7 linked regions of the Homo sapiens genome follow. The protein of the gene in region 3 interacts with the protein of the main gene of each other region in a biochemical or structural test. Each region holds a gene or a part of one and is shown on either strand. Other genes may lie near its edges.

Evidence for each region.
Region 1: the proteins of CLDN18 (region 3) and PDZRN3 interact in a test that uses a peptide from one of them, tested with the Homo sapiens proteins (one large-scale study listed by IntAct).
Region 2: the proteins of CLDN18 (region 3) and ARHGAP21 interact in a test that uses a peptide from one of them, tested with the Homo sapiens proteins (one large-scale study listed by IntAct).
Region 4: the proteins of CLDN18 (region 3) and PDLIM1 interact in a test that uses a peptide from one of them, tested with the Homo sapiens proteins (one large-scale study listed by IntAct).
Region 5: the proteins of CLDN18 (region 3) and PTPN3 interact in a test that uses a peptide from one of them, tested with the Homo sapiens proteins (one large-scale study listed by IntAct).
Region 6: the proteins of CLDN18 (region 3) and FRMPD2 interact in a test that uses a peptide from one of them, tested with the Homo sapiens proteins (one large-scale study listed by IntAct).
Region 7: the proteins of CLDN18 (region 3) and FRMPD3 interact in a test that uses a peptide from one of them, tested with the Homo sapiens proteins (one large-scale study listed by IntAct).

Annotation. Positions count from the first base shown.
Region 1 is NC_000003.12:73,617,649-73,621,941, forward strand, and holds part of PDZRN3 (E3 ubiquitin-protein ligase PDZRN3), read right to left. Parts: intron 1-4,293. UniProt on the Homo sapiens protein: E3 ubiquitin-protein ligase. Plays an important role in regulating the surface level of MUSK on myotubes. Mediates the ubiquitination of MUSK, promoting its endocytosis and lysosomal degradation. Might contribute to terminal myogenic differentiation.
Region 2 is NC_000010.11:24,619,132-24,623,424, forward strand, and holds part of ARHGAP21 (rho GTPase-activating protein 21), read right to left. Parts: intron 3,713-4,293; exon of another isoform or gene 3,632-3,712; coding exon 3,602-3,631; intron 2,239-3,601; coding exon 342-2,238; intron 1-341. UniProt on the Homo sapiens protein: Functions as a GTPase-activating protein (GAP) for RHOA and CDC42. Downstream partner of ARF1 which may control Golgi apparatus structure and function. Also required for CTNNA1 recruitment to adherens junctions.
Region 3 is NC_000003.12:138,030,166-138,034,451, reverse strand, and holds the end of CLDN18 (claudin-18), read right to left. Parts: intron 3,483-4,286; coding exon 3,311-3,482; 3' UTR 803-3,310; downstream 1-802. UniProt on the Homo sapiens protein: Involved in alveolar fluid homeostasis via regulation of alveolar epithelial tight junction composition and therefore ion transport and solute permeability, potentially via downstream regulation of the actin cytoskeleton organization and beta-2-adrenergic signaling.
Region 4 is NC_000010.11:95,262,910-95,267,202, forward strand, and holds part of PDLIM1 (PDZ and LIM domain protein 1), read right to left. Parts: intron 1,155-4,293; coding exon 955-1,154; intron 1-954. UniProt on the Homo sapiens protein: Cytoskeletal protein that may act as an adapter that brings other proteins (like kinases) to the cytoskeleton. Involved in assembly, disassembly and directioning of stress fibers in fibroblasts.
Region 5 is NC_000009.12:109,407,299-109,411,591, forward strand, and holds part of PTPN3 (tyrosine-protein phosphatase non-receptor type 3), read right to left. Parts: intron 3,118-4,293; coding exon 2,931-3,117; intron 2,779-2,930; coding exon 2,701-2,778; intron 1,080-2,700; coding exon 1,023-1,079; intron 1-1,022.
Region 6 is NC_000010.11:48,271,594-48,276,554, forward strand, and holds the start of FRMPD2 (FERM and PDZ domain-containing protein 2), read right to left. Parts: upstream 3,104-4,961; 5' UTR 2,975-3,103; coding exon 2,950-2,974; intron 1-2,949.
Region 7 is NC_000023.11:107,598,946-107,602,788, reverse strand, and holds part of FRMPD3 (FERM and PDZ domain-containing protein 3), read right to left. Parts: intron 2,487-3,843; coding exon 1-2,486.

The sequences.
Region 1 (4,293 bases), about 64 Mb from region 3:
AAAATTAAAGAGCTGTTCTCATATTCCATCCAGGACATCATCTCTTTTTTGTCTAAATCTATTTTTTTTTTTAACAGGGTCTCACTCTGTTGCCCAGGCTGGAGTGCACTGGCACGATCTGGTCTTGGCTCGCAGCAACCTCTGCCTCCAGAGTTCAAGCAATTCTCCTGCCTCAGCCTCCCCAGTAGCTGGGACTACAGGTGTGCACCAGCACACCTGGCTAATTTTTGTATTTTTAGCAGAGACTGGGTTTCACCATGTTGGCCAGACTGATCTCAAACTCCTGACCTCAAGTGATCTTTCCGGCTAGGCCTCCCAAACTGCTGAGATTACAGGCGTGAGCCACCATGCCCAGCCTAAATCTCTTTCACAGCCAGGATCTGTTTTGTTTTGTACTCCATGTGCTCTACACTGGACCTATGTAAATGGGAACATGGTATGGGATGAAAACATTTCATGGACCAGAAGCCAACAGGCAAACTAACATGAGCCAGTGGAGGACACTTGGCAAGTTATTTAACTTTCTGAGCTTCTGTTTTTTCATCTGTAAAATGGAAGGAAAGAGTCATGGGTAAGAGCACCGACCTTGCAGGGTCTTTCTGAGGATGAAATAAAATAATGCATGTACACCTCCAATCCAAACAGTACTTGGCATACATAATAATGGTGCTTTGAAAGCCTGTGTGAGACTTCAGAGAAGGGCACCGCCCCAGGAAAAAATTCTTTTCTTATTTTGGTAACAGTGTGAGCTCGGAGATGGGCCACACTGGGTTCAAATCCCAGCTCTACATTTAGAATCTAACTTCTAGCCTTAATCTTTCATAATCTGCTACTCCCATTAAAAAAAGAGGTCTATCTAATGAAGAACATGGAGAAGATAATGTATGCACATACAGAAAGCACCTTAAGTGTATGGCACCCAGTGGAACTCAATGAATATTATTTTCTTTTCTTTTAAGCTCCTTGGTCTACGGTCCAATGCATAATTGCCTTATAAATAGATTCTTACTCATCAAATATTTTTATAGCGAGGCAAGCACCATTTCTGAACACAGAAAGAGCCACTTACAGACAAATCTCAACAGAATTGCCAATTCAAATTGTCTGGTTATACTCATTTAATCCAGTGTAGCTGGGTAACATATTTGTAAAACAAATCCTAATTTTCCTTATAAATCACAGAAATGAAATAGAAGTGACAATCTGTAACTTTTTTTTAGCAGAAGTGCGCTGTTTTGTTAGATATACTATGGAATGGCCCTGTGCAGGAGCTTTTCAGAAACAAAATATACTTCATGGTGAATACTCTAACAGATACATTTCAAAGTGTTTGGACATCTGGAACACCTTTTGATACAATTGTCTATCAGATTTACTTATTTCCAGTTCTGAAAAGGACAAAATAGTTTCTAGGATTTGGGGCTTTATAAAACTTGATCTGGGTGGATCTAGTGGAACAAAAATAATGCCTCCCCTAAACCTGAAAACAATTTTGTTAACTGGGTCATCACGGAGAAACTCATTCTTTTTAAACACGAGCCCACTTTTGGTTAGCAACCTGAAAAGTTTTGATGACTGCCAAGACAGGCCTTTCAATCTTGAACTCATCACCAAATGAATACATATCAAGAGCTTACAGTGCACATGGCAATGGATTAGTGCCACAGACATGGTACTGGACAAGACAGACTCTTCCACTTATTTAGTTACAGCTATGATAAATGCCATGCAGGAGGATAACCAAAGTAAGAGTCTCAGGGCACCAGATGTAGTCTGCGAGGTCCGAGAGGCCTGGCTTCCTAGAGGTAGTGATGCTTCAGCTGAGATGAGAATAGAAAGAACCATTGTCTAGTGATAAGCAAATCCTAAGTGCAGACAGAAAGGCTGTGGGCAAGAGGAGAGAAGTGGAAATTTTGCAGGTTATTTAGTGCAGAGTACTTGGTAAGATTGTTCCAGGTAGACAGAAGAGCAAGTGCAAAGGCCTGGAGGCAGAGAGGAGCTCAGGGGCACATGCATCGACTCTCAGAGACATGAGAAGCTGAAAGAAGAGGATGAAGGGGAGAAGAATCCAGGCAGGTGGAAGCCGGTAGGATCCAGAGCATGTTGGACCTTATAGCCAACCAAGAGAAATGGGACAGCATAGGAGGCTTGAGGGAGAGTGATAAAAGATACACATTTATAAGAGATTAATTCCTGATGCTAGGTAAAGAAGGAATTGAAGAGGAGCAAGAAGATTTGTAGAGGAAAGAGTTATGGTCCAGGCAAGAGTGTCTGAGACAAAGGCCAATTTTGCCCCTCAAGGGACGTTTGGCAATGTCCACAAATACTGTTGATACTACTTGGAAAGCGCTACTAGCCTCTAGTAGGTAGGTAGGTAGATGCCCGGGATGTTGCTAAACATCCTACAATGCACAGGTCAGCCTCCCACCCCCATCACCACTACCACCACCACCAACAACACACCCACACCCAAGAATTATCCATTCCAAAATGTTGGCAGTGCTGATTCAGAAACTCTGGTTTGGACCACGGTGGTCATTTGAGTGAGCTGGAGAGCTGTGAATAGATTCAAAATGTATTTAGGAGGTAAAATCCGCAGGATTCAAAGACAGACCGGATGGGAGGTTAAAGAACAAAAGGTATCGAGGATGTATCTCAAGTTTTTCAATCAATCCAAGGAAAGTTATGTCCAGAATTGTTCCTTTCCCAGAAAGAAAAGCAAAAAAGATGTTTGCTCTGGAGTGCTTTTGCTCTAAGAATCAGGGGGTAAGTCAGGATGGGAAACTGAGGCTGGGAGCAGAACTCTTTAACTCACTCAAGTGTAGCAATCCCAAGTCTGCTGCAGCTCAGATGTGGCCTCAGTGAGATCAGAGATGCCTGTCTAGGCTATGATTACCTGTCATTTAACTGCTAGGCAGTCTGGGTTTTTTTTGTTTTTTTTTTTTTGAGACGGAGTCTTGCTCTTTCACCCAGGCCGGAGTGCAGTGGCACTATCTCCGCTTACTGCAAGCTCCGCTTCCCAGGTTCACGCCATTCTCCTGCCTCAGCCTCCCGAGTAGCTGGGACTACAGGTGCCCGCCACCGCGCCCAGCTAATTTTTTGTATTTTTAGTAGAGACGGGGTTTCACCGTGTTAGCCAGGATGGTCTCGATCTCCTGATCTCGTGATCCGCCTGCCTCGGCCTCCCAAAGTGCTGGGATTACAGGCGTGAGCCACTGAGCCCGGCCTAGGCAGTCTGGGTTTTAAAATTTTATCCTGGTCTTAAGAAATTTAGGAAGGTGTTTAGACAATGACCAGTGAAACCATAACTGTGTGAAGACCAATACATGTTTGGTCTATATCTACCTGAGCGTAAGCTCTTCGTCTAGCTTAGCGGCTACTTAAAGGACCAGCATCATCTGGGAGCTCATTGGAAATGCAGAATATCAGGCCCCTGGCCAGCCCTAATGGATCAGAATCTCTAGGGGTGAGACTGAGGAATCTGTGTTAAGCTCTCCAGTGACTCCAATCACGCTAAGGCTTGAGAATCCTTAATATAGCTCACATGGTAGAACAGAAGAGACAACGTCTATGCTGGTACAGCACTAACAAACCCTAAGCGTTCAGCAGGTGTCAAAAAAACTGAAACCTAAGATAATTTAAAGAATGCCACATCATTTGTGCAAGTTCTAGGCTGCTGAAGAGCTGGTACTGAAAATCTGAGTGTTTCTAATCTCCTTCAGCTTATAACAGAGAAGCAAACATTAGGGCTTATTTTAAAAAGAAAATAAAAATGTTGCACATGAGAGTTTCCAGGACATATAAATCCTTCTGCCTTTTAGAAGAGAATAAACAGTACCCAGCAGGAGCAGAGAGCCGGCCCAATGAAATAAACAAGTTCTTAAACAGCTTCCAATGGGAGGAGTTTTATGGTTGACCCAGGAACAGCAAAAGCGTTCAGTAAGGGCCACTGAGGGTTAATTTCGGGGCAAGGAGAGACAGCAAGCTTCCCTAAGGCCTCAGCTGAGGCCAGGCTGGGTCTGAGGCCAGGGAAACTATCTAGGGCAGCTTCTGGGCCAGACCATCCTTTGCTGTTCTCAAGGCTGGCACTGAGGTTGGTAAAAGTTCCAAGCAGGGCTCCAACACCGGAACAAACCTTTCTCCGTAAGTTCAAAATCAACATCTTGTCTCTAAGCTTAACATCCTTCTTTATGCTACCCACTAACTCAACAGAGCCTCAAAAACATCCACAGTTTTGATTCAAGTATCATATTTTTGACTCTGAGGGAGATTTTACCCAAACACTCCAGAAAG
Region 2 (4,293 bases), on a different chromosome or scaffold from region 3:
GTTCCACTTGGTTTTTCATTCACCTGAATCAACAATTAGGTATAATTTGCTTCGCTGATTTCCTTAATCTCAGGAATTTGTTTCATCAAAATAAAAATTTGAAATGGGTACTAGGTACATGAAGTTTTTGTTTTTTTTTTAAAAAAAGGAAAATTGGTACTAGAAATAACTTTTAAAGAGGTTTGTGAAAGCTCTGGTTGAAGCACAGCTTATGAGATTCACTAGAAACATTTTAAAATCACAGTGTAAGACTTCTATGCCTATTGAACTAGAAATAATACTTTTCTGGAAAGATTTCTTATACATTTGGCATATTAGCCAATGACTCTAAATGAGCTCACCTATAAATGGGATGGAAGCCAAAGAATCGCCAGGCGGACTGGTACTCGAGGCTTTTCTTTCCTCCATTCTTTTTATGTGGACCTCTCGACGTGCATCATTGGGCAGCCAGCAGGTAGTGTCTGACCCGGTCTCCTGGTCATTTACTGCCAAGATGTAAGACTGATGCCTTAAAGGCTGCGGTGTCTGGCGTCCAGATGGAGGTTTTTCCCTTAGGATGACAGCTTCTTTATTATCTAAAGTATCTGATTGCTCAGTTTCAGCCTCTTGTAAACTTAAATCTTGATTCCTTTGACTGACAGGTAGTTCTAAATCTGAAGTACCAGCGTTTTCACTCGACTGAGGGGCAGGCTTGGCAGAGGCTCCAGATAAAGAGGGGGATTTCCCAGTCTCCACTTGCTGATCGGGGGCACTGTCAGTCCTTACCCATGTCTGCTGATTCAACAGACTGTTCTGATGCAAGTGATTTACTGGTCTTTGGTCTTTGATAGAAACAAATGATTTCTGGCTAAATGATGGTTTTGTGACATGCGTGGAAGGAGCTTTCAGAGAATTACTTCGGACTTTCACAAGAGGTGACCTGTCTTGTGAAATACCCCGAGGCAGTGACATTCCACAAGTAGTCTGAAAATTTCTGTTTGACTGCAATGTTTTTAGATCTGGTGGAATTTTTTTAAACTGCGACACAGATCCCACTCCTCTACCACTCATTCGCCTGTTATCAGAATTAACAACGCTTGGAGCCACAGTAAAATTGGAACCTCGAAAAGATTTATGAATTTCTTGCTGCCTAGGTCTTTCACAAATACCTCGTCTATCATCCTGTTCAGTAAACCCACTCCACTTGTAAGTCTGTTTTTTCTCTCCATTGGAATCAGGTATTGGAGTTCCAGAATTGACATTTTCTAAGGTTTCATCCTGTCCCTCAATATAATCCCATGAACGAGTTCTATGATTACTAAAACTAACAGATGGAGACGTCAGTGCTCCTTGAGATGCACTTCTTGGACAATACTTCATTAGCACAGAATCTTCCAGTCTTTCTTGGGACACACTGCGTTGCCGTATCTGGACAGACTGGGGCACTCGATCATGAGAGGTGCTTCGACGTCGTCCCTGCAAAGTAGTGCGGTTGGGGACGACCTGGTTATAATCTGTCGTGCTTTGAGATGCTGCTCTTAAACTATCTAATCTTTCTTGTATTGTCCGACAACCTATGTGCAATCGTCTGTTATCAATATACTCTTTGTAAGTTTTATAGTTTTTCCAGTCTATGTGCTGATGGGAATTTGGCGAATAGTGATTAACAGATACAGAGGGAGCCTCCACAGCTTGAGATCTGCTGCTTGAGATTCCATCAGAATGTCCACTGTAATTTCCAGACTTAAGTAAAATTCCAGAAGGTTCCAGTGATCTGGAGCCTGCAGGCTGATGAATTAGATGAGTGGTGGGAATTGATAATGGTGGTGATGTGGTTCTTGACACTGTTTTTAAAGAGGTCTGCTCACTCACGCCATACCTCACTTCTTCAGTTCTATGTGAAGGACCTGTATGGTTGTTTCTATTGGATAACAAATCTACAACCTTCTCAGAAGGCACAATGACAGTCCTTACACTTTCATTGCAAACACACACTGCTGTGTTTGATTTTGCAACATCTGTTGGTGATGGAGGCACTTGTATTTCCATTCTATAGGCCCTACCAGGTTGTGTCAGTACTGGTGTACTGGTTTGCTGTTTGCTCAATGATGAGTCAGGAGGAGATATTTCAACTGGCTGTGCCATGGCTGATGGGGCAGATGGCAGCCAGGGATAGCAGATTGGTGGAGGTTCAGGTATATTGCGGGCATTGCCGCTATAAGCTTCGTTGCCTTTCAGGTAGGCATCTTGAGAATATGCCTGTATAGAAATGAGAGGAAGGTGTCACTGGAAATTCATAAAAAGAATAATAATTTCCATTTTTACAGTGCACTATTTTATCTATGTCCTACCTCGTTCCTGAGTGACATTCACTATAGCATGCATGCAAACACAACATAAGGGTACTCTACAAATCTAGAAAGAGCTAGTCTCTCAGAAATCAAATAAACTGTAGAATCTGCAACACATACAAATTACAATCACCTCTTTGCTCAAAACATGTGAAACTCATCAAATTTCTACCCAACCAATTAGATGTACCCACATTACTTCTAAAATTCTCCCCATTCAAGCCTTCTGAGTTTCAGCAGTTGACAGGTTAAATGGCTGCCAAATAAATCCCAGCAAAGGAAGATTCATGTATTTTGCCAGAGAAAAGGTGAAAATATTAAAAATCTTAAATGCATTTTAAGTACTACTACTATAATAAATTAAGTCTAATTTATTTGAAGCATCTTGTCAATTAACCATTACAGAGTCCCTAAGAATAATCCATTTTGACAAATTAAGACCTTCAGCAGCCATGCTAAGTATTTTAATATTTAAAGTAAGATAATATGCAAGTTTAAGAAATAAAGCACATATAATAAAGGCAGAAAAACATGAAAAAAGGTAACTCATCGTTCTGTATATAATTTATATTTTTATTTTAAGCTAATGCAAAAGTATATCATACAAATTTATTTGGTCTCCTTTACTTATTATAAGGAGACATTTCTCTATTACTAACAGGCAGGCATGCAGCCTAAATAGTTTTTTATCAACTATTTGTAAAATTATTCAGCAATATTTTTAAAGCCTTAAGAATAACAGAAATCAACTATAGAGACTTTACAAAACAGAGCTCATCAGTGCAACACAGGGACTATGTTCAGCATCTGAGACAGATGTGGTAACACATCTTCCCCTAATCAAAACAAGCTTAACTCAAGACTATCATCACATCCTGCTCTTTGCATTCGACAGCTTGCAAAGCTCAAGTGCAGCCACAAACGTAACAGCAAAGTAGTAGTGACAGGAAGAGGGTGAGATACTTAAAAAACATATATATATATATATATATATATATATATATATATATATATATATATATATACTGATGCAGATAAATATTACGCTGTAGCATCAGTTATGTACAGGATACAAAAGAAAACCAAACATAAAAATAAAAAATAAGGATGGCAAACCATCTATCACAAACGTATTCTGCAAATTAGTAAGATTAACACGATAGAGGGATTTCTCTAAGCAAAAGTGAACAGTTTTTAATAGATTGGCTTATTACAAATCTCTACAAAACATGACTTAAAAAGCAAGGAAATGGCTACTGTGCATTTCTTACCAGTGCTGTGACATCCTTTGTAAACTGTAGCTAGCAGAAAATAGGAAAACATAGTAGAAGCTGCTTACTGATATAAAGACAAAATCATGTTGTCATATTGATGCTGGAAACGGCAAGCTAAAAATACATCTATACTTGTTTCTCTGGAAGGTACCAAGAGAGGTAAAGGGCAGTGAAGCATAAAGAATAACTCCAGTATTCTTCTGAACATCTTTTTCTCAGGCTTTTATCTGATTCTTGTTTGATGTGTCTACCATTCTTGAAAGCAAAATACATCTGGTGACATGCATTCCTAACAGATATTTTCTTCAATATGCACTGCTGTCTGATAACATGCTACAAAGCTTCCCTCCACGAAAGCAACAGTGATGTCTCTCATTTCCCCCCAGCTTCTTCCATCTCTGCTTCCAGATGACGAAACGAATGCTCTATTATGCATTTAAAATAGTACAACCTCCTCCTTCCCCAGTAAATCAGAGCATAACCACAAGCTGTCAGCAGACTGCAGCTGCCTTTACACTAAGATTCAGGGGGGAAAATGACTTCTTTTAAGTAAGTTTCACTCAAAAATTAAGATCTTTCAACACTGTGCCTTTTGTACTATTGTATTAGTTTGCAAAAATAACTACTGGATAGACATAAAAATATTACTTCCAGAGTAATTCTTGTTAACCTATAATAAATATTATAGA
Region 3 (4,286 bases):
GGCTTTATGGCTAGAAATATAAGCAGCCAACACAACAACTCACAATCTTCTTGAGAAGCAAACCAACAGAGAAGACAGCAGAACTGAGATATGGGCAGAGAAAAATAGAGTCTTAATCATAACCCTTGATTCAGCTGTGTCTGAAGCCAACCCTGACCTCAGATACCCCAGTTACATAAGCATTGCCCTCTTTGTCTTAAAGTTGTGAAGCTTGGTTTACTGTCACTTAAGTGGGTCCTTTACTTGTATTATTCCATTATTCTTATCATCCCTATTTTACAGATAAGGAAATGGAGACTCAGAAAGTTTAAGGGCTTTGTTCAAGCTAACATAGCTGCAAAGTAGTATGACCTGGATTTGAGGTTGGGTTGTTCTGACTATATAGCTTATGCTGCTTTTGTAGCTTGGATACAGCCTCAGTTTATTGAGCTGGTCAACCCAACCTTGGCAGCATCAAGAGGGCAGGCATTGGCTCTCTTGTTTTACTGGCCCACAAACAGGACAATGACATTAGACACTTCGGGCTTGTGCGCTTAGGGTCAGACAGGCTAAACTGGATCCTTGGACCCCATGCTGCATGCCTGGTTGCTCTGGGAACTCCTCTTCATTAAGGCTTCCCAACTTGCAGAAACCACAAACTGGTCTGGAACGACACCTAGCTCTAGGTAGCTAGGCTGCTGTTGAGCAGAAATGGATTCTGAAAGCAGAAAAACTCCCATGAAGAAGCATCCAGCGTTGAGGTGCTGGGACTTCCCACCTCCACTTCCCAAAACATATGAAAAAAGAGCAGAAGCTATTCAACTGTAGGATAACAGTGTTTTTAATATTTAAGTAACAAAACATTCAGGTTAATACTCAATGCATATACAATAAGATAGAGCAACAACAACAAAATTACAAAGCACAATCTAACTATATGGAGGCTTTCAAACAATTAAATGTTGGATAGAGAATGCGCTAATTAAAAACCCAGCTGAGCCACACCGCACTACCTGAGACCTGACCAGGGACTTTCTGGTGGTAGAAGGGAGAGCTCATTGTGCCCTGTGGCCTTCAACTCAAATGGATGCTCTTCAACTCAAATCCAGAGAGCACTTAACAAACTCCATGCTCTAGATTGCTCAACCCTCCTCCTTGCTTTTCTTTTTTCTTTAGTTGACTTGTCTGCTCATCCTTTACCCAAACTGAGGCAGTGAGTTCCACAAATACTTCCTCTGGTTTGGTTTAAATGTTGCTGTCTCAGTGAGAAGGGCCTCTGAGCTCACTGCTCTGACTCTTGAACACAACTTGTTATTTAATGGGGCATAATCCGTTCTTTCCCCAGACATAGTCTGTTCAGCCTGAAGATCCTTATGAGTATTCACCAATCCCCTTGGAGGTCACTTTCATATGTACTATTGATGTGAGGACTTTCCTCTCAAATAATAACCTAATGGCCAAGTTCCCCTGCACCAATGCTGCTGTGGGTAGTTTTTAGAGACTGCTCTTACCTCAGTTTCCTAGGGGGCCTATCTGGCTTTGGTACTGGGATGGAATTCTACTGTCTTGGAAGGAATTTAGACTTTCTGCTCAAAAGGGCAGTGATGTAAGCTCAGGGAAGGTGTGTGGTTGCAAAGAGCTTTCAGTTTTGCCCAAACATCTGATGGTCCAACCACTCTAGGTGAATTCAGAGAAGTGAACAGCTCTCAGAGTAACAAAACTGACCACCAGCTAGTTGTGATGGCGCACACCTGTAATTCCAGCTACTTGGGAGGCCAGGGTAGAAGAATTGCTTGAGTGCAGGAGTTTGAGGCCAGCCTGGAAAGTGAGACCCCGTCTCTAAACAAAGCAAAACAAAACAAAACCGACCACAGTGCCAGGAAAGTGCTACTGCTAACTGGCAGTGGCTTGTAACCATGCAAATGTGGATACCTGTCACTTGGAAACATTACATTTAATTCAGGCTCAACTTTTTTTTTTTTTTAAAGAATTAGTTTTAACCTACTTCCTAGGACTTGCTGTGTTCCATTATTTATTTTTTATTTTTTTAGACAGGATCTCGCTATGTCACCTGGCTGGAGTGCAGTGGTGTGATCATGGCTCACTGCAGCCCCAACCTCCCTGGGCTCAAGTGATCCTCCCACCTCAGCCTCCCGGAATGCTGGGACTACAGGTGTAGGCCACCATGACTGGCTGATTTTTTCTCTCTGTATTTTGTAGAGACAGGGCTTCTCCATGTTGCCCAGGCTAGTCTCGAACTTCTGGGCTCAAGTGATCCTTCCTCCTCAGCCTCCCAAAGTGCTAGGATTACAGGCGTGAGCCACTGTGCCCAGACATTATTTACTTTTTACATGGCTTACACTTACTATCATGTACAATCAGAGCCATAGAGACCTCAAAGGGAAAGAATTAGGATCAGTGAGCTTTTCATGGAATTTGTACTTAAGCATGACTTTACAAAGTACCATATAGACAATGTCAAAGCAATTATTTTTTCATTTCCTTCTATCCACATGTAGGGGTGAGGCTATTTCACAGAGATAGTGTATCATTTTACTAAAACATTATTTATTTTAACTATATTTAGGACTTAAATTAAAAAAAATAATTTTCTCATTCATCTAGGGACAATTTCTGACCCGCGACAGAAAGAGGACTCCAGTGGAGAGCTCAGGAAACTCCTAGAATGGTGTTGCTGTAATAAGAAGATGTCAACAGCAGTAGAAAGGTTTGGTTGCCTCAAACTGAAAATGACTTTGGTTTGGTAACTTTTAAGATCACAGTGTAAGAAAACCGAGATCATGGGCTGGAGAGATTACAAATATCTTTCTCTTATTGCTTCTTCTTCAGTAAGTGTTTATTACTAGCCAAGTTGGGGGTGGGGAGACAAAATTCAAACAGCAGAAAATAACATCTTTGGGTCTACTCTTTCCTTTCAAAAGTTTTCTTGGGGATAAGCTGGGAAATAGATCATCAATGGGTTTATTGACTAGGAGGAAGAGGGGGAGTCTGTCTAAATCATCAAAATGTGAGAGAGAGATTAAAACCACATTCTCTCATCAGAGTAGAAAGTTATATTTAAAAAAAGAAATAGAGGATTGAAAATGTGAGCTATAGCCTCTAATTCATAAATAACTCAGCTGTTTTATGGTGGAATATTTAGAGACAGAGACTGAGGCTAAGACCATTTGGCCTCTCCAAAGATGAAATCGAGGCTTTTCTAACTTCCAGCTGTGAGTCAAAAGCAAGAAGAAATCTAGATGGGATCTCCTTGTTTTTTGGGTGAGCTCTCCGGGAGTTTCTTCCGCCCGTGCTGAGAGGTCTTAGAGCATTACACATAGTCGTGCTTGGAAGGATAAGATTGTACCTCGTCCTCTGTGCGGGCACCTCCATCGTATATCTTCTTGTTTTTGGTGTTGGACCCAAAGCCAGTGCTGGCCTTGAAGCCTCCAGGCTTGTAGGCAACACTGTGGCCTGAGGCATGATAAGAAACGGCTTTGTAGCTGAAAGAAAAATAAACATTCCATGATTGTAGATGTCTTTGTTAGTAGGACCAACCTCCTATTTACCATAAACTGTCTCAGTCTTGGCACTGAAAGTCCAGTGTCCCTGGAAACCCATCAGTCCGGGGCAAACCAGGATAGTTAGTAACCTTAGTTTTTGGTACACTGGTTTTACTGCCTCTGCAGTGGAACAGAAGTTCTTGCACTGTTTTAGAGCTTTGCTGAGCCGAGAACAAAATCTCCTGAGAATAAAATAATTGTGATTCCAAATGGACATTTTTGGATGGTGGAGAGAGGTATCCCCAAATCCTCGGTAACTAATGAGTTCCCTCTTTCAATCAATAAAAATACAGCTGAACCAGAAACAATGTCCAGGGGAACATTGTTACGTCAAAGGATCATAGAATTTGTGAGCTGGAGGGTACCTACGTTCAGCCCATTGCCTCAAGCTGCTCATTTCATGGATGAGGTGATAGAGGCACAGAGAGGGCAAACAACCTGCTGGAGGTCACAGGGCTGGTCAGTAGCAGAACCACACTGGAATCCAGCTGTCCCCACACCAGTTCAATTTAGGAAGTTACAGCAGAGTTTCTCAGCAGCAGCACTGTTGACGTTTTGGAACAGATGCTTCTTTGCTGTGGCACAGTTCTGTGCACTGTAGGGTGTTCAGCAGCATCCCTGGCCTCTACCCGCCAGAGGCCAGTATCACTTTCCCCCACCCTCCCAAAATTGTAACAGTTAAAAATGTCTTCACGTGTTGCCAGATATCCCCTGGGGGGGAAATTGCTCCTAGTTGAGAACCAT
Region 4 (4,293 bases), on a different chromosome or scaffold from region 3:
AGGTGGGAGGATCACTTGGGCCCAGGAGTTCGAGACCAGCCTGGGCAACACAGTGAGACCCCAATCTCTACAAAAAAAAGTAAAACTTAGCCAAGTGTGGTGGCACACACCTGTAGTACCAGCTACTCAGGAGGCTGAGGTGGGAGGATCACTTGAACCCAGGAGGTCGAGGCTGCAGTGAGCTGTGATCAAACCACTGTACTCCAGCCTGGGTGACAGAGCGAAAGCTTGTCTCAAAAAAAAAAAAAAAAGACTCAAAGGCAGCTGCAGCCAGATGATCTGTGACAGAAGAGGACATGCCTCCTCAGTCCCCAGCAAGGCACTTCCTCAGACACCTCTCCCCTTTCCACCTGCAGCCCTACCTCTCCCCCAGTTAAGCCTGCCTCTGTCCCCAGATCAGAACCTATTCCTAGGACAAGCATTTATATCCTCAGGGACCTCTCTTCTTTCATGACCTCTGGTCCACTCTAGGGAAAAAGCAAACACTGCTTCACCAAAACTATGCAGCATGAAGTATTTCTCCCTTGCTTAGTTCAGATGGTGGACATAAGCACAGGCTACTCTAGATTCCCTCAAACACTCCCCGACTAATAATACTGAAGAATTTCTCGGGAAGCAGCAGGCCTGTCAAGGAAGGACTATGTTCAATTAGAAGATGATGACCACAGAAATCAAAACACAAATAAAAACAGTTCTGGAGGATTAAGTGATTTGTTTGTGCTTAACACAATGCTGGGCATTTTACGTATTAATTCTTACTTTTACAGACACCCTATAAAGCAGGAGGTATTGTCCCCTTTGTGTAGATGAAGAAAATGAACACAGAAGTGTTCTGCTAATGTAGTCATTTTTCTCCCTGGAGTAGTGGCTCTTGCACCTGCCTGGGCAGCCCTGGTCCTGATGTGAAAAGCCCCTCCCAGGAGCGGCTCAGAGGAGGACTCCTGGGCTACTTACGGTCTGCTGTTCGCCTCCACCCCGCTGGCAGCAGTCTTTGACTCCAGGGCATTGTTGAAGTTGGAGATATTTTCAGAAGAGTAGAGGCCAGCTGGGTTGTTGTACTGGTTTGTGATGACCCTGGCAGTAGTGCTGGAGGCAGGCGAGGCGGTAAAGGGCATGGCACTTCGGTTGTGGGCGCTTCCTATGTGCAGGACCTCCTGCAGGCAGGGATCAGAGGAGAAATCAAGGGGGGCATCCAATGCAAACCCCTTGATGGGCAGTGCAGGCTGAGCGCCAGGGAGAGGTGTTCCAGCTGCTAAGATGGCCCTAGTTCAACCCAAACTTTAGCTGAGGGACACTGACACACCCACTGAGACACACGGGCAATGACTGGGGAAGTTTCCCACAATGGGCACCTGTGCGAGTTCACACCCCCTGAATCATCTCTACCTTCTGATTCTTCCTTGAGGCCCAGCAAAGCCTGCCCTCTAAGGCACCCTCGGGCAGGACAGCCCTTGATGCTTTGGGCTGTAAGATTCAAGTCAGAGCTAAAACACGCTTTCAGGGCACATACCAAAGAGATTAAAGCACTAGGTGAAGAGAAATATGCAGTCACTTTGGTCAGTGCAAAAGCAGGAGATGATAAAAGGTGGAGATAAATTCTCCATAAGTGAGCAAGTTAGACAAGCAAGGTAAGAGGGTGTGGTGTCACAGGGGAAGCAGCTGCTGACTAGGCAGAGATGGTCTCAGTCTCCTGCAGAGCAAGGGTAAAGGAAATTAAGGATCTATTGTTTCTTCTGGGAGAAAGACAAGGCTAATCAGATAGAAGGTCGGGGATACCTGTTACAGGGGCGGTACCCAGCAGAGCTGCAGAAAAGGACTTTTGAGTTCCTTGTGTTCTCATTCCCCTCTTTCTGTAATTTGAGAAAGTTCCCTCCACCCCCACCCTAGACTTGTTAAGAGTCAGGTGAATAATTACTACAGCTACAACATCTCAGAGCTCCTTTACAAACCCGCAAAGCCACTTTGGAAATTAACATTCCTGTTTTCTAAAACTACAGCTTTTCTACTTTTTCTTTCCCTCCTGCCAGCATCACAGCTTTTCTGATAGCCCAATCAGCAAGGTCCTTTCTATATGGGTGTCTGGACAACCCATGGCTTCTAGGTGATGCATGCTCTGTGCAGCCAGCTGAACTCAAAATGTGTCTTAGTGTCTGTGTTTTCCAGAAAAATCTTCCTGAACTCTAGTCTCTTTCTTAAAACACCCAGGCCCAGAACAGCTGCCTCCAAAAGAGTTCCTGTCATCTGTTGCACTTCCTTTTTTCTCTCCTTTTTTGTTAAATATTCAAGTCTTTTATGCTTTCTTAAAAAAAAAAAATCATGAAAACTAAAAGCTTTATTGAGTACCTAATTTAAAATAAAAGAAAACAACCTGAAAATATTTTTATGTTTAAGACTTCTCTTTTGGGCCGAGCGTGGTGGCTCACGCCTGTAATCCCAGCACTTTGGGAGGCCGAGGCGGGCGGATCACCTGAGGTCCGGAGTTCAAGACCAGCCTGACCAACATGGAGAAACCTCATCTCTACTAAAAATACAAAAATTAGCCAGACATGGTGGCGCATGCCTGTAATCCCAGCTACTCGGGAGGCTGAGGCAGGAGAATCTCTTGAACCCAGGAGGCAGAGGTTGCGGTGAGCCGAGATTGTACCATTGCACCCCAGCCTGGGCAACGAGAGTGGAACTCTGTCAAAAAAAAAAAAAAAAAAAAAAAAAAAGATTTCTCTTTTGGCTGGGTGCAGTGGCTCACGCCTGTAATCCCAACACTTTGGGAGTCCAAATCAGGAGGATTGCTTGAGCCTAGGAGTTCGAAACCAGCCTGGGCAACATAGTAAGACCCCATCCGTAAAAAAAAGTTAGACAGTCAAGTAGCCTGTAGTCCCAGCTACTTGAGAGGGCTGAGGCAGGAGGATCATGTAAGCCCATGAGATGGAGGATGCAGTGTGCCATATCGTGCCACTGCACATCAGCCTGGGTGACAGAGCTAGACTCTCATCCCTAAAAAAACAAAACAGGCCAGGCACGGTGGCTCATTCCTGTAATCGCAGCACTTTGGAAAGCCAACGCAAGAGGATCACCTGAGTTCAGGAATTCAAGACCAGCCTGGCCAACATGGTGAAACCTCGTTTCTACTAAAATATAAAAATTAGCTAGGCGTGGTGGCACCTGCCTGTAATCCCAGCTACTCAGAGGCTGAGGCAAGAAAATCACTTGAACTCAGGAGGCAGAGGTTGCAGTGAGCCAAGACTGCACCATTGCACTCCAGCCTGGGTGACAGAGCAAGACTCCATCTCACAAATAAAAAATAAAAATAAATAACAAAAAATAAAAAACAACACAAAACTTCAGCAGTTATCAAAGAGTAGTTAAGTAAATTTTATGGCACAGCTACCCAAATAAATAATATATAGTAATTAAAGGCTATGGTCATGAAGACAGAGATTTACAGATGGGTGGCCTGGTACCCTTGCCTACATGTGCCGCAGCCAGGATGGTCATTCTTTCTTCTTCTCTCCATCACCATGGCAATTCCTAGGAGCAGCAGAGGATGCAGAGCCCCAAGGAAGGGTCTTTATTTTTCCGCCTTGGCTCAATTTTTCCCTGCAATTTCCTGTTTGGCAAGGAATACCCCTCTAAGCCCATTTTTCATCTTTAAAATGAAGAAGATAAAGCCTTCTTTACAAGGATTTGTGTGAGTTACTAGAGTGTCAAGTACAGTGCCTGGCTCGTGGCACATATTCAACCAGGGTCTGTTCCCTTCTCCCTCCACCGAAACACATTTCCAATTAGAATGGAAGTCAATGGAAAATTCAGGTTGAAAATTCGGATGATTTCACTTTCTAAAGAATCTTTCAAGAATGCATCTGGTTTGTACATAAAAGGAATATCTCTACCCTCATCTGAATACTGACTGGTCTTTCCAGAAAGCAGGCAGATTCAGGGCTTGCCTTTTAGAAGGGATGATGTAATTGTTTGGGCTTTGTATTTATCAGTCTCCAAGGAAACTCAATAATGAGGAAGTACAAACTAGGTGTGTAACTATGCTGACCTCAGATAAGCTGGGGTGTTGGTTGGCATTACATGAACCAACAGATCTTTTTATTATAGATGAACTCTGCTCTTACTCATTTATCCTCTACTTTAGAATGGCTGGAAGTAAAAGACTGGAAAAATGATGGGTGAGAAGTTTTTCTTACAGTAATAAAGCATTACTAGAATCACAAGAAAAATACAAGGGTTTAAAGTATTTGAGAATTTTTGTAATCTGAAGAGAACTACCTTCAAAAGATTAATACAGGT
Region 5 (4,293 bases), on a different chromosome or scaffold from region 3:
ATCGCTTGAGCCTAGTTTGAGGCTGCAGTGATCATACCACTGCATTCCAGCCTGGGTGACAGAGCAAGAGCGAGACCCTGTCTCTTAAAAAAGAAAAATAGGTTAACTATGGAAAGTGATGAACATGTTAATTTGTTTGACTGCAGTACTATATGTATAACAAGACATCATGTTGTACACCTTGAGTATGCACAATAAAAAAATTAAACGAAAAAATTACTTGATATTATTTTAAAAACAATAAAATAAATTTATTTTATTTTTGAGACAGAGTCTCACTCTGTCGCTCAGGCTGGAGTACAGCGGCGTGATCTCAGCTCACTGCAACCTCTGCCTCCTGGGTTCAAGGAATTCTCCTGCCTCAGCCTCCTGAGTAGCTGGGATCACACCTGTGTGCCACCACACCCAGATAATTTTTGTATTTTTTGTAGAGATGGGTTTCACCCTGTTGGCCAGGCAGGTTGGTCTCAAACTCCTGGCCTCAAGTGATTCACCCTCCTCGGCCTCCCAAAGTGCTGGGATTACAGGTGTGAGCCACTATGCCTGGCCTAAAAACAATAAAATAAATTTGAAAGAAAAACAAAGCAAATGCTCTTCTTAGGAGGCCTACACAGATGACAAAAGGGGCACTGGTGGAAAGATGGTGAGAAGAGGCACAGGGCCCACGTGCCCACTTAGAGTGAGCAGAACAGCAGACTGCCTAAGTTTCCTTCTCTTGAAAAGGACTTCTCAAAATTGAATGCACACTAACCACTCAAGGCTCTTGTTAAAAATGCAGATTCCGGTTCAGCAGGCCTAAGCTGAGGCCAGAGATGCTGCATTTCTAATGAGGTCCCAGGTAACATGGGTGCTATGGCTTCAAAGACCACACTGAGCCGCAAGGTTATAGAAAACATGGTGATGTATATCTAAGCACATTCTTTGCTCTGGCAAAAAAAGAAACAGGACTCAGAAACAGAAACCTGTTAGAATTAGGGGGAAACAAACAAACACGAGGAATAACATGGAATGTATTTACTTACAGGTGACTCTGGGTTTATCCTTGATACCACAAGAGGCATCTTTTGATCCACTCCTCCCTGTAAACATTTTAAAATAAAAACAAAACAAAGTTTTTTAAGTTAAACAAACAAACAAACAAAAAAACGAGTAGCTCACAGCATCAACAACATGGAGGTACCAATAAATGTGAGTCTTTGGTACAGGGAGGCTTCAAACTTCACTATGACTGATTCGAATCACACGTCATTTCAGAAATATGGAACAAATTCCTGACCCCTCTGGATCCAGCGGGCTGACCAGGACTCTGTTCAGAAGCCTCCCTCTGCCATCCCCACAGTCCATGAACTAACAGATACACTCAGAGAGAAGCTCCTCCTTAAAAACGCAGATGCCCCCAGAGAGGGACTCCACAGCATGTCTTCGAGTGCTGCTAGAACAAACCTGCACGTTGTGCACATGTACCCTAGAACTTATAATAATTAAAAAAAAAAAAAAAATATATATATATATATATATATGGGCTTTATATATATATATGGGCTTTAATATATATATATATGGGCTTTATATATATATATATAGGGGCTTTCAGCAGAGGCGAGCGAGGCCTGGGAAGGGGGCACACCCTGTGAGCGCATCTGGCCTGTGAGCGCTGGTCCTCAACACAGCTGCTGGGGCAGATGAGGCTGTGCATGATGGCAGCTGGGGGGTAGGCGACCACCTGCCCTCACTTTGTCCTAGAGTAGGGATGAGTAAACGTTTTCTGTAAAGGGCCAGAGAGGCTTTGTGGGAGTGAGGGCTCTGATTCAACTGCTCAACTCTGCAGTCATTAACCCACCAGTAAACAAATGGCTGTGGCTGTTACCAAAAAAACTAGTTACAGAAACAGATGGGATTTGGCCTGTGGGTTTAGTTTGCAGATCCTGCTTAAAGGTGCCTGGAGGAGAGTGGTGGCCCTGCAGGTTGAACTTGAATTGTTTTTCTCTTATCAGCTTTAGCAATGCTGAGGGGTTCTCTTAATAGCATTCCTGAAGTGGGTAGATCTGTTTGCCAACTGTGTGCCCTCATTTCTGGGAACCTCAGTATTCATTTGCAAAATGGGTTTAAAAATACTGACCTTACCACTTGTTATCAGAACTTAAGAAGGTGCTATGAATCTAGTGGATAGCCAATGCCAGGCACAGAGCAGGCACTTGGCCTTCGGCAGCTGTTAAGGCCACATTAAAAAAAACCTCTCAATTCTAGGCTGGGTGCGGTGGTTCACGCCTGTAATCCCGGCACTTTGGGAGGCCAAAGTGAGTAGATTGCCAGGTGTTTGAGACCAGCTTGGACAACATGGTGAAACCCCATCTCTACAAAAAATATGAAAAAAATTAGCTGGGTATGGTGGTGCATCCCTATAGTCCCAGCTGAGGTGGGAGGATCACCTGAGCCTGGGGAGGTCAGCGCTGCAGTGAGCTGCGATCGTGCCACTGCACTCTAGGTTTGGGCGATAAAGTGAGTTTTTAAAAAAAAACAAAAAAAACCCCAAATATCTCAAACCAAACAAAAACAAAAAAAACCCCCAACTCTCAATTCTGAGGGTTGAACCAACTTCCTTATGTAGCTCAGGAATGCAGCACATTTGTAATGCAAATTAAAAACTCATTGAAAGATTGCTTCCCAGCACAAAACTTCCTTTATAAATACACAACATACCTTAAGATTAAATCCAAATTTTCCATCTTCATCTGGTGTGATACGGATCAAGACTAAGTAGCTGTCACCATTATCATTCTGGAAAACGGTTTGAAAGTGGTCATTTGCATCACATCTCTCTCCAGCAGTTGGTGATAAGATATTTTCATTTAGTTAGAGCTACTCAGCTGCCCACAAGAGGCCGGGAAGCCCTGGGTGTGTGGATCACCCGGCTGCCTGCGCTCGCTCACCTTGTCACAGTAGTACTGGCTGGCGTCCTCGGTGGAGCCCCCTTTGGTCACCCTGTGGAAGTCATCTAAGAGCTGCTGATCAACGCCGTCAGGTGAGCAGGAGCCTGGAGCATTTGAAGATGGAGACACAGAACTGGATGACTTCTGGGTCAGGTAGCTTTGTGCCGGATTGTTCTCGGATAAACTCCTTCATCATGGGGAAGGAGGAGATATTAATAACTGGGTTAATATTTTATTAGAGCAAACACTACTGACTGTAGGGGCCTGGCAGCTGGGGGCTGTATGTTTCCCTGGAACCTCAGCTGCATAGGTTGTCAGCGGGATTTGAGTACACCCAGGGCCCACTGACCACCCCTGACCGCATCTGGCCTAGACACTGTCACATGGTTTTGGGGAAAAGGGATAGGAGGCAGGGTGGATCTGGAAACTGCTGAAAACTTTGCTCCCTTCCCCGCTGCTTTAGAAGGGTGACAGGGAAATGTGTCCAGCTCCTCTGGTGGTTTCATTACTGAACCAGGCTCTGCCAGGCAAGCTCATGCAGATGCACAGCCCATCCCTTCTGAAAGCTTTTTTCCTTCTGTCTCACTTCTGCGGATGGTTCTGCTTCATAGGACTCTTGCCTCCTCAAAGGAAACAGGACTGTTGTTGTTGTGCGTTCAGGAGAATTTATATTATTCCTAGTTGGCATGATTTGCCTGTGACATCCATGAACTGCCACGCTGAGATCTTGTTACATTTTCCTCTATCGAATATAGTTTCTTCTGTATCGTGGAGCTGCACTGTCTAGTATGGTAGCCACTAGTTATATGTGGCTACTTAAATTTAAATAAATTAAGACAAGAAACCAGCCATACTTCACATGCTCACTAGCCATATGCGGCCAGTGGCTCCCGTATGAGACAGTGCAGTCAGAGAACATTTCACCACGGCAGGAAGTCCTGCTGGACAGCGCTGTCTTAGAGAGTTACAGATGATGAAAACGGAACAGAACTTTGTGGTCATTTGTTCTAACTCCCAGTTCACAGATGAAGAAGCTGAGGTCAGGAGAGGCTGAGTAACTTGCCCAGGGTCACATGGCTTTCCCCCGGCTTAGCAGACAGAAACCTGACCGATGTGCGTCCTAAGCCTTTCTTCCCTCTCCAGACCATGCAGAGCCCACTTCCAAGACCCCTATTTCTAACCCCTCAGAGTCACAGGGATTAACCATCCCTGCTGTCACTGTACAGGACAGGACCCTTGAGTCTCTGCATCACCCACACCAGCCCCTTCCGGAGCCACAGGCCCAGCACAGACACCTTACAGAGCTGATGACTATGGGGCTCTCCTACATTCTAAGACTCTGCCCCACCCTAACCTCATCCAA
Region 6 (4,961 bases), on a different chromosome or scaffold from region 3:
CTCAAGCAAATACAGGAATAAGGAGGCTTACAGCCAAGGCAAGAAAAAAAAAGGGAGGGCAGTTAACAGTAGAGCTGCCAGCGACCAGTAAAAGGAAGCCTGAGGAATAGGAATCAGCCTCGAAAGCAGACTTCTGCCAGGAAAGCAGCTAAAAACACTGATATCTCAGGGTGAATACAATTCAGGAGGGGAATGAGAATAGAAAAGCATAGTGGCTGGAAGAGCAGGCTCCGAGGTCAGAGCTGGATTGATCCCACCTCACCGTGGGCAAGTTACTTCCTCTCTTTACTCGTTTATACCATGAGTTATTGTGTCTGGCATATGGCAGTTTTTCAATAAATCCTAGCTATTCATATTATGAATCCTGAGTATATGGAGAGGGCAGGGAATAGGCTAGAGACAAGCCAGCAAAACTGGGGTTTCAGACCAGAAATGACTTCACTAATGGAGCTGCAGGTAGCATTGTCCTGGGCTGCACACCGCAGCCCTTGCTATTCCTGAGCAGTTGAATTCATAGTCATCTATTCATGGTGTTCTTTTTAATAAGTCCAACATTTTGGTGAGTGACAGCTTCATCCCCAGAGAGAAGGAAGTATTCTTCCTAATTCTTCCTTCGTGCCCCCTTCATTTGCACCCATGAGTCATTTTCTCACCACTCTGTATTCTGCTCCTTAAACCTTTCTTGGATTCTGTGATATGCTGAAGAAGGCTCCTACTGGCCTGTGAGAGCCAATTGTTAAATTTCCAGAAATTTTGTAAGCTGGTCATTAAACACAGCCATTACCAAAAAGTATTATAAAAATCTCCAATTAAATAAGTTATATTAACAATATGTTGAAACTCACCATTTCCAAATTATTTTACTGCATTTTACTGTTGTCTGTGCTTTGGAACTTATTTAAATGAAATACATTTCTATGATGGAAATACTGTGTAATGGTGTGCTGGTGCACAGCCCTTCCACCTTTGTGTTCAGCGATATCACATTGGGAGCTTGTGATTGGCCATGGTGGTAGTATTTATACCACAAAAATTGGCAAAAGCTACAAATTAGGGCTTGGTTTGCTGTTTTTTCATTCCCTAAGAAAACTAAGAAAGTGATGGAGAAAATGTTCATGCAGATTAAACCTAAAAGTGTGTCGCGTCCATAGTTGTTACATTGTGAATAACACAAAAATTGGGAAAACACTCTTCCAAATTCAAAAACTATGATCTGATCCAGCAGTCACTCATGTCATTGACAGATGAGTGAAGTTAAGACAATCATCTTCATTGTTTCACTTTCTTCTTACTTGTCAATGTAAACAAAAATATCAACCAACATTCATATTGGAACTACATTCAGTGGTCAATTGCAAACAGGCTGACCAAGGGTATAAGAGTTCAGCAAAAATCAACAAATGCATGCTGTGAGAATCAAATGGCTATATAGAATTTGTAATAAAGAGTATTTTATATTTTATTACTTGTAAATTGTGCAATATACATCCTTCATATCAGTAAAATTTATAATGAACTTATTAGATGCATATGTATTTGTTTTTGCTCACAGTGCTGGCAGCACCAGCTTGGAGACCTCCCCTTCTCTACATTCCACTGTTGTTTTCTTAGGTTAGGCCATCTGTCATCATTCCAGGTTTCATCCTCTCCAATCCCACACCCATATTGCTACTAGATTAATCTTCTTAATATTAAATGCAGACACGACACATCCTTCATTAAAACTACCAGTGCCTATCTGGGACCTTCTGAGTGAACTCTGGGCCATAGAAGGCCTTCCTTGCTCTCCCCTGTTCACCTCTGCAGCCTCCTTTCTTATCAGATTCCCCTGTTCCCACTTTACTAAAGTTAGGCCAAACTGCCTGCTGTTCCCAGAGCATGCTTTACTTATTCATGCCACTGGGCCTTTGCATGTGCTTTTCTCTGCTTGGGATGCCTTTTCCAATCCCCCTGCTCCCAACTCCTGCTAGTGTTCGCTTAGCATTAAAGCCATGCTCAAGCAACACCTCTCCCAGGAGCCCGTGCCACCTCCATTTCGGCACTTGCTATCACCGCCAGTTTTCATGCAGGTCCAGCATTCTGCCCCCCGACCCCCACTGTCCTACAACCTGGAAGATCCTCTGGGCTGGGGGAGACATCCCCAGCATTTGGCATGTGGCCCCAGGAGATACCAAGTAAGTTCTCGTTGAATTAATGAACTACTTAATTGGTTTCAGCTACAGCCTATAGCAAATCACAGGATTTAGCCAGGAGAAATAGACACGACTCATCTCTGAACTCAATTGTTGCTTTAAAAAAAAAAAAAAGTTGTTTACACTGTTGAAAACCTCAACTGAGTTTTTTCTTTCCTTTAAGCATACAAATAAAGCCAGGTGAATCATTTCTTTTCCATTGTTTTCTGGAAGTCAGCTAGGCATACCCTGAGTCTTCTTACTTTAAACCACTGATACTCTTTAAGCAATAACCAAAACACTTGCTTCTGAAAGATAGTGACAGCCATGATTTACTGGGCTACTCAAATGCTCCAAGTATGTTCTAAGTGCCTTACGCGTGTCACCCCATGAATCCTCAGCAACATCGTAACGCATGGGGCATTATTATCCCCATTTTACAGGTAAGAAAAACGAGTCTTAGGAAAGTTAAAAGAGTCATTTGAATTTGCACAGATGCTGAATAGCAAAGCAGTGATTCAAACAAGGGGTGGTCTGATTCTAAAGTCCATGTTTTCTCTTCTGAGCCCATTCTTTATTGCTAAAAAACAAATACAATGTCTATCAGGCTTAGCCAATGGCCTGGAACAAATAATACTCCAAATAATACCACAAAGGGCACTGACACAGGTCCTTGCCCAGCTGTGTTCTTCTTATTCCGGATACCTAGACCCAGTAAGAAGTTTGCCCTTTCCCTGACCAGATTTATAGGAGAAAACTGAATGATGCCAAGGAATACCTGCGTCCTTCGTTAAAGGCTGCATCCAAAAGTCTCCGTGACCAGGTCTAGGCCTTCATCATGGGACAACTTTCCAACAAGGAGCAGGGGTCTCTTGCAAGTCTGTCCGCGGAGCTCCCTGCCACCAGCACTGTTGCCGCTGTCTTTGTTTACTGCTTGTCACTAAGCACTTGCTGCCCAGCGAGTGAGTCAACAAGGCCCCTTCCCTTTCCTGCCACCACTCTCATTCCCTGGGTCCTGCGCAGTCTCTGGCCTGTTAGCAGGCACTGCCACCCCAGCAGCCTGCGTCCTCAAAGCCAGTGACCCGTGAGAGAGCCAGGAAGAGCTCAAGTGGATTAGGTGCCACTGAAGGCAATGGGATTGCTGCTCAGCAGGGCTTTTACGCTGATGTCTCTTTATCTCCTGGCCCAATCAAAAGAAAGAGCTCTGCAAGGAACTGGGGGCAGCCCCAGAGCAGAGGCTTAGTGTCATCAACTCAAGAGTCCTCCATGCCCTTTCATAGTGTCAGACATTGGACCTGCAACCAACAGGACAGGGAACCATGTGAAAGCAGCAGGAGGAAATGATAACCTGGATCTGTCTGTGAGAAAGCAAGAAAAATGTGGTTAGAGAAAGGGGGAAAGGAATTCTTACTCTTTCTGGTGCTTGGATTCAGAAAGGAACCAGCAGAGATGGGGAACAGCAAGAAGTAGATCATAGCTCTGTAGTAGAAGGGGCAAAAGAACAGATCTCTCAAGCCCTTTAAATCAATAGCAGTGTCAAAACTGAGACGTATTTATTTAAAAAGAAAACATGAGTTTTTGCCTGACTACAGAATAAAATACTAAAATTTGAGGCCGGGCACAGTGGCTCATGCCTGTAATCCCAGCACTTTGGGAGGCCAAGGCGGGCAGATCACGAGGTCAGGAGATCGAGACCATCCTGGCTAACATGGCAAAACCCCGTCTCTACTAAAAATACAAAAAATTAGCTGGGCCTGGAGGCGGGTGCCTGTAGTCCCAGCTACTCCGGAGGCTGAGGCAGAAGAATGGCGTGAACCTGGGAGGCGGAGCTTGCAGTGAGCCAAGATCGGGCCACTGCACTCCAGCCTGGGTGACAGAGCGAGACTCTGTCTCGAAAAAAAAATCTGATGAAACTCAGTGCTGGTGAGGGCATGGAGAATGAGTACTCTCATATGCCAATAGTGAGATTACAGATAAGTGCAACTTCTCTGCAGGGAATTTGGTAATATTCATCAAATTTGTAAATGTACATATCCTTTGTAAACCCAGCTGCTAAGAAGTAACCCCATGGACATTCTTGCAAAAGTTCACCAAAGCATCTGAGAAAGGATGCTCTTTGCAGTGTATTTTGGTAGTAGCAGAAAACTGAAAGCCACTGAAGTGCCCATCAACAGTGATTATTGTAGTTCACACACAGTAGAAAACCAGCTATGCAGCTGTGTAAAGGAAGGAAGTAGATCTGTGTGTGCTGGCATATAACAATTGCCTAGAAAATTCTTTAAGTGACAAAAGGTATGGAATAGCCTAGTATGTTTCCTTTTATTACAAATAGGTACATAAAGACCAGGTATATTTACGTATATTTATGTATACATATTCTTTATACACTGTAGTATATTAGAATATTATGTAGACATATTCTTGTGGTTCTGGAAGGAATCACAAGCAACTTAATAGTGGTTGCTAGGGGAAAGAGTTTTGGCTCATTATTTAGTCAGGAAAATTATTGTTCATTTTGGTATTTTCCCCCTATAACCTTATGTTATATTACTTGAAAAAAACTAAAAAACACAATGTTTTACATTTTTTTCTGCTTAAAGCTATCTATATTGACATTCCCTGCTAGCTAGCAAAACATTTCACAATATCTGCAACAATCTTTTACTGTTTTTTCCAAACTTGTCTTCTCATCAGATTCAGCCTTGAAGACGATAAAATGCAGATTCCCAGGCACCACCCTGAATCTGCTGAACCTGAATCTCTGGGCCCGAGCCAGAGCATCTGTATTTT
Region 7 (3,843 bases), on a different chromosome or scaffold from region 3:
ATGGGCCCGCAGGGCATTGATCTTGGCCAGGCTCCCCTCGAAGGTGGACACACGGAGGTCAATCTCCTGAGTGCGGGAGGCCTCAGGGCTGCTGCTGCTGCAGGTAGCAGCATCCAGCACCTGCAGGGTCCTGCTCACCACAGGCACCACCTGCTCGTCCAGCTTCATGCCAGGCAGGATCTTCATGGGGATAGAGTAGGAGAGCTCATCCTTGCCATCACTGGCATCATCTGCCATGTCACACTTGCGGTAGTAGAAGCAGTAGCGGATGGAGCAGCACTTGCTGCTCTCACTGTCCTCGTCTAGCTCGGCAGGCTTCCGGTACACCTCCTCGGGCAGTGAGAACACGGCCATCTGTCTGGGGCCTTTGGTCTCTGGGGCAACCTGGACGTAGGAGGGGTCTCCCAGCGTCGGTGACTCCAGAGACCTGCTTTTGGGACCCAAGGCTATGGGGAGGCTTGCCTCTACCTCCTTGGCCTCCCTGGGCAGCATGCCCAGGGGAGGATGTGGGTAGACATCCGAGGTCAGCGAGGCCCTGTCACCCTGGTCCAGCTCACTGATACTGTAGCGGCGCATCAGTTTCCTGTAATTGGGAGCTCCCAGACACTCGCCCCCCGAGGCACACGTGGTCAGGCACGAAACACCACTCTCAGGGTCCGATCGGCACTCTCGGGACTCCAGGCTGGTAGAACGAATGCGCTGGACATTGATGGGGCTGCTGAGGCTCACGCCTGGGCCAGCCTCTGGCTGCCTCTGGCTAGGGAGGACTCTGTCCCTTTCCCTCCCCCGGAGGCTGGGCACTGGTGTCTGGGTGGCTTGTGGCCGGCCCCCCCGGCAGATGCGCTTGCAGTCACAGCTGCGCCTCTGCTCACGGGACATGCCAGGCCCCTGCTGCACAGGGCTGCTGCGGAGCTGGCAGCTGCAGCGGCCAGGTGCTGGAGGTTGCAGGTACTCGGTGCCTGGCAGCTCCCCCTGGCTTGGTGGCTTTAGAAGTTCCTCAAGGAACTCCAGTTCATACTGCTTTACCTTCTGCAGTTGGGCCTGCCGCTCATCTGTCTCCTTCTTCTGGCGGGTTGGGAAGGTGGCAGAGAATAAATTGCGTAGCCGGAAAGGACCTCGGGATGACTTGGGTTTGGCAGGGCCTTCAGAGGTCGAGTGGGCTCCATTGAGAGTTGTTTCAAGCTTCCTAGAGGGCATGGTGCTCACCTGCCGGCTGGCAGCCTGAGACCTCAGTGGGCTCTGGCCTCGAGGTTGGCAGCTGGGGCTCTGACCTCGAGACTGGCTGCTGGGGCTGTGGCCATGAGGCTGGCAGCTGGGGCTGTGGCTTCTTGACTGGCAGCTGGGGCTCTGCAGAGCCATGGGGTAGGTAGCTCGGGGAACCAGGCTGGTCTCTTCGAGCTTGCTTCTTTTGGGTGTGCTCTCCAGCTGCGCCTTCTCCCCTTGGCTGGAGATGGTGCCCTGCTTCTGCAGGGTGGGCTTACCACCCACTGGCCCGCCTTTGCCTGCCACCTCCCCTGTAGCTTGCTTGCCCACTGACTCTCGGCTTGTTCGCAAAAGATAGCTTTTGGGAGGGAAATTTTGAACAGGCAGACTGTCCTCTTGTTGGGAGAGGTGCAGGCTGTCAGCCCGGCTGCCTGTGGGTGCTCTGGGGCTGGAAGAGACCTCTGCACCCAGCTGATGTTGAGAATTCCATGAGGTCTCTGGAGCACTGGGGCTAATTTTGAACTTCAGATTCTTACTGGCACTGCTGCTCATCATGCTAACCTCTGGCCTCCCCATGCTGGCCTCCAGCCTTCTCTCACCCCTGCTGGGGGGGTTCCCCAAAGCCCCACCAGCAGTGACTAGACTCTTATTGTGAACCACTTGCTGTAGGGCGGCCGAGATGATGGCAGGGGTCACACTGCTCTTTGGGTCGAGGATAAGCTTGGGGCTCAACCTGACCTCCTTGGGCAGGTTGTCCCTCAGCTCAGAGACCTGCTCTTCACTGAGGGATGATGTGGCTGCCCTCAGTGACATTTCTAGGCCTGCCCTAGTGTGGCCAGGCCCTTTGTCCTCAGGAACTGGGGACAGCAGACTCAGATTCTTCTGTTCACTAAGCTGTGGGGACAGTGCTGGGTGCACTGCCAAGGAGTATGTTCGTTCTCCCTGTACCTGGCCCTCTGACTGGGGCAGCTTCCTCCGAGCGCCAGGGGGGCCAGGACTCTGGCCTGTGGCAATGGGTTGGAGAGATGGGTTGGGATCCGGGCGCCCAAGAGAGTAAGGGGCCGTAAGAACGGCCTGGGCTGCACAGCTCTGGATCCGGAAGGGCAGGTCCTTGCGGGCAAGGAGGCTGTCCTTGTTGAGGTGCTGGGCCAGGAAGTAGGTGGTGTTCTGGTGCTGCTTCATGGCCGACATCATCTCTGACATGTCTGTGAGCTCTGAAGAGTTGGTTTCATGACCTGAGTCCAGCGATGATTCAGGAGTGATTGTGGCCAGCACAATCAGACCTGGAGGAACAGGGATAGGGCTTGTTATGCTTACTGAAATCAAGTTCTTTTCCAGCTCTACACGGTTGTCCCTCGGTATTCATGGGCGATTGGCTCTAGGACTCCTGAAGATTCCAAAACTTGCAGATGCTCAAGTCCCTGATACGAAATGGCATAGTATTTGCATGTAACCTATGTACATCTTTCCATGTACTTTAAAGCCTCTCTAGATTACTTATAATACCTCACACAATGTAAATGCTATGTAAATAGTTGTTATACTGTGTTGTTTAGGGAATAATGACAAGAAAAATCTGTACATGTTCAGTATAGACATATTTCTTTTTTTCAAATATTTTTGATCTGCGGTTGGTTGAATCAGTGGATGCAGAACCCTCAGATACAGAGGGCTGACTATATAGGAAGTGCATAGAAGCCAAGGTTAGCCAGCAGTATTTCCAGCTGGAGAAAAACAGACAGGCCTGGCGAGAATGCAGGGCTGAGGGTGGGAAGAGTGGAGGGGAGGGGACAAAGAGGGGCAAGCTATAAGAAGGGGATGAAAGGCCGGAATCCAAAACAGAAACAAAAGAGGTGGCGAGAGGATCTGGGCAGTTTTATGGCAAATTACCATGTGAATCACATGCAAAACAGCATGCTAATCACAACTATTTTTAGATTCAACAGCTAGGAAATTTTTGTTAATTGTCCTAAAGAGGGGCTGGCAAAGAGAGGTCTCTCTCTATCCCTCCTCATCTGGCCAGGCCCGCCTACAGTCATTGCAGCTGAGGCCATTTAGCTGAGCTTGTCCTCTCTCCAGCAGCCACGTGGGACTCAAGCCTGGGAGCAACTAGCACTCTCTCCAGACTCTAAGCAAAGAGAAATGCCAGCCCTGGGGGCCAAATACATGGGGGTTGTCCAATGTCAAGGGTGTCCTCACACATGGAAAAGGCAGGCTCTCTCTGACCCCAATCCCTCGTGGTCCCTATTCCTCCCTATTCCTTTTCTGTTGCTGTGTCATTTACCTCTTCTCTTTCTTTTTTCTTCTTTTTTTTTTTTAGAGTCTCACTCTGTCACCCAGGCTGGAGTGCAGTGGTGCAGTATCGGCTCACTGCGACCTCTGCCTCTCAGGTTCAAGCGATTCTCCTGCCTCAGCCTCCTGAGTAGCTGAGACTACAGGTGTGCACCAGCCCACCCAGTTAATTTTTGTATTTTTAGTAGAGACAGGTTTTCACCATGTTGGCCAGGCTGATCTCGAACTCCTGACCTCAAGTAATCTGCCCACCTCGGCCTCCAAAAGTGCTGGGATTACAGGTGTGAGCCACCACGCCCAGCTCTCTTCTCTTTTTTTAAGGTGTATGTATATGGAGGGACATATGTG